Regions from separate parts of the Homo sapiens genome. Here region 2 is reported to be linked to region 1. Evidence: microRNA targets listed by miRTarBase, many of them from high-throughput screens and not tested one by one. Region 1 holds a microRNA gene; the other region holds the end of a gene's coding sequence.

Region 1 (3,000 bases):
GGAAACAGTCTGTTTTAATGTGTGAACTTCTAGGTCTTTTCTATACTTCTTGAAAAAAGTTCACCTAGGCTTCACACTTGTCACTAGCAGTTGGATTAGTGCTTAGATGAAAGCTTGTGCCAAAGTGAGGCATAGATGAAGTAATTTTATGACCGTTTGACTCTTTCTCCCTTATAAGTTTTGATCCACAAAAGAATTAATTTCTATTTCAAATGTGTGGTTGAACTTTTGGATGTTTTTTTCATTTCCGTAGTGCAAATTCATCTTTTTCAGGATTAGCTCTCATGGGAAAAACCAAGAGCTGTTGGGCATTTTTAGTTTATTTATCAATCATGACATTTGAGTGCTGGATGACAATGAAGTTTTGCCAAGGATTACTCTGCAGAGCCCTGTGCTTTATTTCCATTGTTATCTTTGGAATGGATTACATTCACATTATTTGAGGAATAATTAATTGGAGCCCCAATTCAGACCAGTTGGAAGACTAACAAATATTCTTTTGTTTTGGTTACAGAAGCTGCACACATACATGTAAGAGAAGCAAAAATGTCAGATGATATCAGGAAAAGGTTTGAATTTCCAAATTCTCTTATCCAATCACAGGTAATTTTGTTTGTTTATTTTTGCTCATGGTAACAAATAAACCTGTTCTGTGGATTTTTAACTGAACTTTATATATTTAATATTAAATATTTTATTCTACATGTAGAGATTTATATTTTGTGAAACAACTTTAAATATACATTTAATTTGAAAATATATATTTGACATGGAAAGCAAATATTTGAAATTGATCAATCTCAGCTTCTGTTTATATATCATACTTTTCTTCCTAGAGATAATAAAACCTTGATTAACTAGTAGGCCCCTGAATATGTTTGTTTGGTTTTTTTTGGCCTATGATTATTGGGAACAGAGGTAAACAGTTATATGTCTGAAGAGTATGAGGGATTAATATTTAAGAAGACATATCCTACCCCTTATATAGATTTTTATAATAATGATATTTAATAAGTAAAATATCCTGGATTAGAAAATTTGATATATCTACTAAGATAGAAGATTGTGATAACTTTAAAGAGCTTTTCAATAATTAAATAGTTAAAACAAAGATGGCTTTCTGGGTAGCCTTTAGCTAACTAGAAACATTCTGGTTAATCAAGGTATCATAATAGCTTATTGTCTTTTCTTGTGAGAGTAAAGCTAACAGACCAGCAGAAGCCATCTTGAAGACTTAACAACATACAGCACCTTGGATACTTTCAACAATTAACTTCGGAGATGTCTGCTGTGGGAATTGACTTAGCTGGGTAGTGGGGAACCCTTCCATGAGGAGTAGAACACTCCTTATGCAAGATTCCCTTCTACCTGGCTGGGTTGGAGTCATATCCTGCAGGTCCTTACCATGAAGAAGAAGATGAAGGCTTGGAGGATACTATTCACAGTTTTATTTTTCTGTGCCTGGAGTCTCTTTGTTAACATAGATAATCAAGAAATGCCCATACGTGTTACTGTTAAATTAGGTGAAAAAAATATATATATATATTTATATTGTTTAGTGTAGGATGGCTATTTGAATTCTGTTATAGAACACTTAAGTAGCAATGTAGGCTGATTTATCCTTGGGTTTTGTATTTTAAAAAATCAGTTTAGGCTAGTATCTCTGATTTGTTAGAAGATGAAGTGAAAAGTATATTAGATAAATTCAACCTGGTGGGGAATGGGGAATTAAGCTTCTCTTCTTTTATTTCTTTTTCTAGATATGAACTATAGCTTTTTCTTTGTCCCTATTGTGTTTCATATTAGTTTTATTAGGTTCTTGTGATTGTGTCCTGTCCTTTGCAAATATTTCTTATTGTTCTTCTGTAACCACTGCTCGATGTTAGCACCATATTTCTTTGATTCACACACGTTTTTTTTCAGATTTTAACATCTTTGAAATTGGATTGCCTCTAGTAATTGATGGCAGCAGTTGAGATACAGTTGGTATTGCCTGCACATTTGTGAACTTGGGCATGATTTTCTACACGAGTCTAAAAGAACTCTTGTGTGACTATAAAACCAAAATTCCGACTTATAAGAAGCACTGTATATCATAGACTAATTGGCAGCCTTTTTTCTTTCTTAGTGGCACACAGTATAATGGTGCAACTTGCAATTCCTGGTCAGTTCCATTCAATGAAATATGGTATGTTTTGTAAAACAGGAGCTCAACCTATCCATGGGTGCTCAGTTCTTATTACTATTCCTTTTACTAGGAGATAAGAGACAGTAAGTTGGACTAAACTTAATATTCATGTAAATGAGTGACTTATATCACAAAACTAGACCACAAGCACCACGGTCTTAAATCAGTTCCAATGTGTGAAATACAAAGAGAAAAATGAGGAAGGAGTGGGTGCTGTGTTTTTATTTGAGCTGTTCTGGAGACTTTGCAGGACTGACAGTTATTCACAGCTATACCGTAATTTGGTCCCAAGTGCAGGATGGACAGTTGTAGCAATAGTGAAGTAGTTTCCAACCCGTACACAGAATGGCAATGATTGTTGCTAGCCTATTGGCTCTAAGACATATTCTTCATATTCGTTAACAGTGTGATGAAGCATGGTGGATTTCGTTTCAGTGCAAAGATGATTTTAAAAACTATGGGCTTTCTCATTCATGTTTTAATGGAGTAAGCAATCTCAAGTTATCTTCTGATACTGACAGCAATTTGAACCAAAAATCTGGCAGTTTTCTTAACCTCTATGCACTATAGTTGCTTATTGGTAACCTGGGATAGATATGCCTACCTTGAGGGCTATTCTGAAGATTAGAAATTGTGCATGTGGAGTGCCTAATTCAATGCCTTCTACATAGCACACACTTAGTTAATGGGAATTTTACTTAATCCTAATTGACTGCCTGGCATACTCATATCAACTAGTATTGATATTTGGAAAGAACTTCTAAGGGACTGTGTTCATTAATTTTATTTCTTTTTAAGGCTGTGGGTCATCT
Region 2 (3,502 bases), not on the chromosome of region 1:
CAGCAGCAAAACCCTGCTCCCCTGGGAGCTCAGTGCCTGGTGCTCCGAGCACAGGCCAGGCCCCATAGGGGAGCACTCTGCCCCTGCCTGCCCTCGGCTGGCTCCCTGTGGCACCCCTGATGCCAGGGTCTCTCCCCTACAGTTTGCTGTGTTCTACAAGGGGGACGAGTGCCTGGGCAGCGGGAAGATCCTGCGGCTGGGGCCGTCTGCCTACACGCTCCAGAAGGGCCAGCGCAGAGCTGGGATGGCCACTGAGAGCCCCAGTGACAGCCCAGAAGATGGTCCAGGCCTGAGTCCCTTGCTCTGACAGAGATGGATCTGCTAGAAGGAACCTGGAGAGCAGGACCCATGGCTGGGCGGCTGGTGAGCAGTCCAGGTGCCCAAGGGCCAGCTTGCTGCTGCCCAAAGCAGAGGAAGCCGGGCTGGCTGAGGGTCCGAAAAGCCTGCAGGGGCCCGGCGAGCCCCAGGAAGAGCCTCAGCTCCAGGCTGGGGCTCTGGCTGCTGGAGCATCTGCTGGCTGGTGGGGTGGCCCGAGTTCCCCTTCACCGCCCCCAGGGAGGGTTTCCCACCTCAGAGTACACCGAGGGGACCTGCAGAGGGGGCTGTCGGGACAGCGTGGAATAAACATTATTTCAAGGACACATAGTCTGATCGCTGCTTCCACTGGGGCCCAGGGGGCTCCACATCACTGACTCCCTGGCGTGGAAAGGCAGGTGGACTGCAGACGCAGCCATGGCAACCTGCGTACCTCTCCCTGAGGTCCCAGCTGCTCCATCCTCTGCCCCCGTATCCCTGCTCCTGGACTCCAGAGTAGGTGCCTGCGATGCTGACCTGTGTCCTTGGCTCTCTTCCTCTTGCTGGGCTTGAGTCCTTCGTAGCGTGTTGTTGGTGCCTCAAGACAGGTTCCTGCGGGGACCAGAGGTGCATTCCCCTTCTCTGGGTGGGAAGGTTCCAGAGGCAGCCAGGTGGTGCGCAGAGGGCCTTGCCCAGATGCCCTGAGTTCTTGCTGGTGCGTCAGGGTGGGGGCTGCCATGGGGCCCACTGTCCATCCTGACCCCTCCTCCCATCTCCCCACTGGGTGTCCCCTGACCTGGGGCACCCTTCCTTCTAGCCTAGGCCCCCACGCAGCAGGGAGTGTCCTGAGGGTGAGGAGTGGGCCAGAACCCCGCAGGCCAGGTGAGGAAACGGGGCCTAAGGTGGAGCCGTGGCCCTTGCTGGGCTGGGGTGGGGAGGTGGGGGGTGTGGGGTCAGTGCTGCCCTGGCCAGGGGCAAGCCCCAGCTCTACCAGGCAGGCAGAGCGCTGGCCAGTGGGACCAGACAGGCCCCTGGGGATCCTCGGCCCAGCTGGGCATGGAGGCCGAGCTAAAGCGCCGCGTTTGTTCTGCCAGCTCAGCCCAGCACGGAGCCTCCCTGGGCTCAGGGGTTCCCTGATTTATGGCTGTGGTCGGGCCTCCAGCCTGGGAACTGAGGGTGGGAGAGCCCTTGTGGTGCCTACTGCTCTGCCCTAGGTGAACCCTCCCAGGTCACAGAAACATGAGTAGGTGGGAGGTGGGGCAGCCAGGCAGAAGGTGGTGTGGGCACCAGGCCAGCAGCGCTAAGGCTGCCCCCGCTCCAACCTCCAGCGGGCTCCACCGTCCTGCCAGCCTCAGGGCCTGTGCATCGGCCAGTGGAGGAAGCGGGGACACAAACCTGCCTCTGCCCCCTTGAGCCCCCAGGCTCCATGGTGACAGCTTCCTGACTGGCAGGGCTCCCCTCTCTAGCAGGCACAATGGCCTGCCCTGCCCCCTACAAGGCCACTGGCCAACTCTGGAGGGCTTTGGTGCGATGTCTCAGAGATTCAGCAGAAACTGTTGGCCAGGGGACCAAGTCTCCAGGCTGCTCTTCTGGCCTCTTTCCTACCCTCCCCAGCACCCAAGGCTGGCACACTCCAGAGGCTGTGCCCCTCAGATGACTTCTTGAAGACCTGGGGGCCTCCAGGAGCACAGGTAGCTAGGTAGCCCCTTCTGCCTGCAAGGGTACCCCCAGTGGCCTGGCCTTAGCCCCTTGCCACACCTATCCATGAAGACGATGGGGGAACATTTTCCAGGCCAAGAGCTGGGTGCCTGTACACCTACACCTACTCCCTGCTTGTGATACAAATGAAAGCAAAGCCCTCGCTCTCCTCTCCCCCTACGTTGTTCCCGGATAATCTCAGTGATACATGGGTCCTAGGATGATGCCCCCTCACCTCACACCTGGGAGGCTCCTTCCCGAGGCCCTGAGCTGGTTTCAAACACCCTGAGCCTGCCTTCTCCCCAGTCTCTGGCTCCCATGTTGCCCTGTGCCGGAGCCTTGCCTGGGCCCAAGCCCCTTCCTTCTTGGGGAGGTTTCTTTTTTTTTCTTTTCAAGAGACAGGGTCTTGCTCTGTTACCCAGGCTGGAGCGCAGTGGTGTGATCACAGCTCACTGCAGCCTTGACCTCCCAAGTAGCTGGGACAACAGGCATACACCACCACACCCAGCTAACTTTAATTTTGTTTTAGAAACAGTCTTGCTATGTTGTCTAGGCTGGTCTTGAGCTCCTGGCCTCAAGCGATCTTGCCTCAGCCTCCCAAAGCACTGGGACTACAGGCATGATCCACTGTGCTAAGTTTTAAAAACTGTAGAGATGGAGTCCTGCTGTGTTGCCCAGTCTGGTCTGGAACTCCCGCCTCAGCCAGCCACTGTTGGGATTACAGACATGGACCACTGCCTGACCCTCCTGGGGGTCTTAACAAGCCTTGCCTCCAGGCTGAGGAGCCCAAGGCGAGGCTGAAGCTGTGACTGAAGCAGCTGCGGTCACCCCTGTCACCTGGGCCGGGGGAGTCGACGCCCTGTGGCTTGGCCGGTGTTTGTGCTGTCATCTGTTCAGGCAGGATCACAGAGGGGCTCGTTCAGCCCTCACCCGTCACGGTCTGCTGCGGATGCTCTGCGGAGCACTTCGTGGTCCTCACATGGACATCCTGGCCTGGCTGATGGACAGGCCTGCTCCGGGCTACCTGGACTGCTTTCTCTCTCTCAGATGCTTCTAGTATTTTCCTGCTAATCATGGCTTTGGGGTTGAGGTAGAAATATTCTATCATGTTAGCCACTGAGCATTCTAGGATGTAAACGTTAGCAGGTGAACTGAGGAGAAAGCAACAACTTGAAAAATGACCTCAGGCACATGGGTGGTTTTTCCTCTCTCAGATTTGACCCGGGGGTGGCCCTAATCTGTGGTCCTGTGCAGCCAGCACCAGGGCAACAACTCCAGAGAGGCCTGGGAAACGGGGGCACTGTGGACTAGAGAGGGTTGGGGTTCCCATTTTTCTCTCTTTGCTGTCACTACTTTTCCTTAAGGGTGAGCCCTGTTTCCTTAAGGGTGGAAGCGTGAGACAGTGCAGGTGGCTAGAGCTCTGGGAGAAACCCATCTTTCTGGACAGAGAAACCAAGAAAAGGGACCCCAGAAGTGAGAAAATGCAAGGCAAATTCCAGCAAGGAGAGTG

What was found. The annotated mature microRNA hsa-miR-491-5p reads AGUGGGGAACCCUUCCAUGAGG and lies in region 1 at 1,313-1,334, shown strand. An mRNA with a match to its seed (bases 2 to 7 or 8) in the 3' UTR can be bound and repressed. Matches are read on the target gene's strand: a 7mer-m8 pairs with bases 2 to 8, a 7mer-A1 pairs with bases 2 to 7 and ends in A, and an 8mer does both.
Region 2: miRTarBase lists TRMU as a target of hsa-miR-491-5p. The part of its 3' UTR that is shown has no 7-base or 8-base seed match.

What each region holds. Positions count from the first base shown.
Region 1 is chr9:20,714,808-20,717,807 of GRCh38, forward strand. MIR491 (microRNA 491) reads left to right here and starts at 1,298; the gene lies at 1,298-1,381. It overlaps FOCAD (focadhesin), which reads left to right. Exons shown (of 44, transcript NM_001375567.1): 2 at 515-603; 3 at 2,987-3,000. The coding sequence starts at 547.
Region 2 is chr22:46,356,700-46,360,201 of GRCh38, forward strand. It overlaps TRMU (tRNA mitochondrial 2-thiouridylase), which reads left to right. Exons shown (of 11, transcript NM_018006.5): 11 at 143-641. The coding sequence ends at 307. Among named protein-coding and RNA genes, the nearest start is that of TRMU, 23 kb to the left of the region's middle.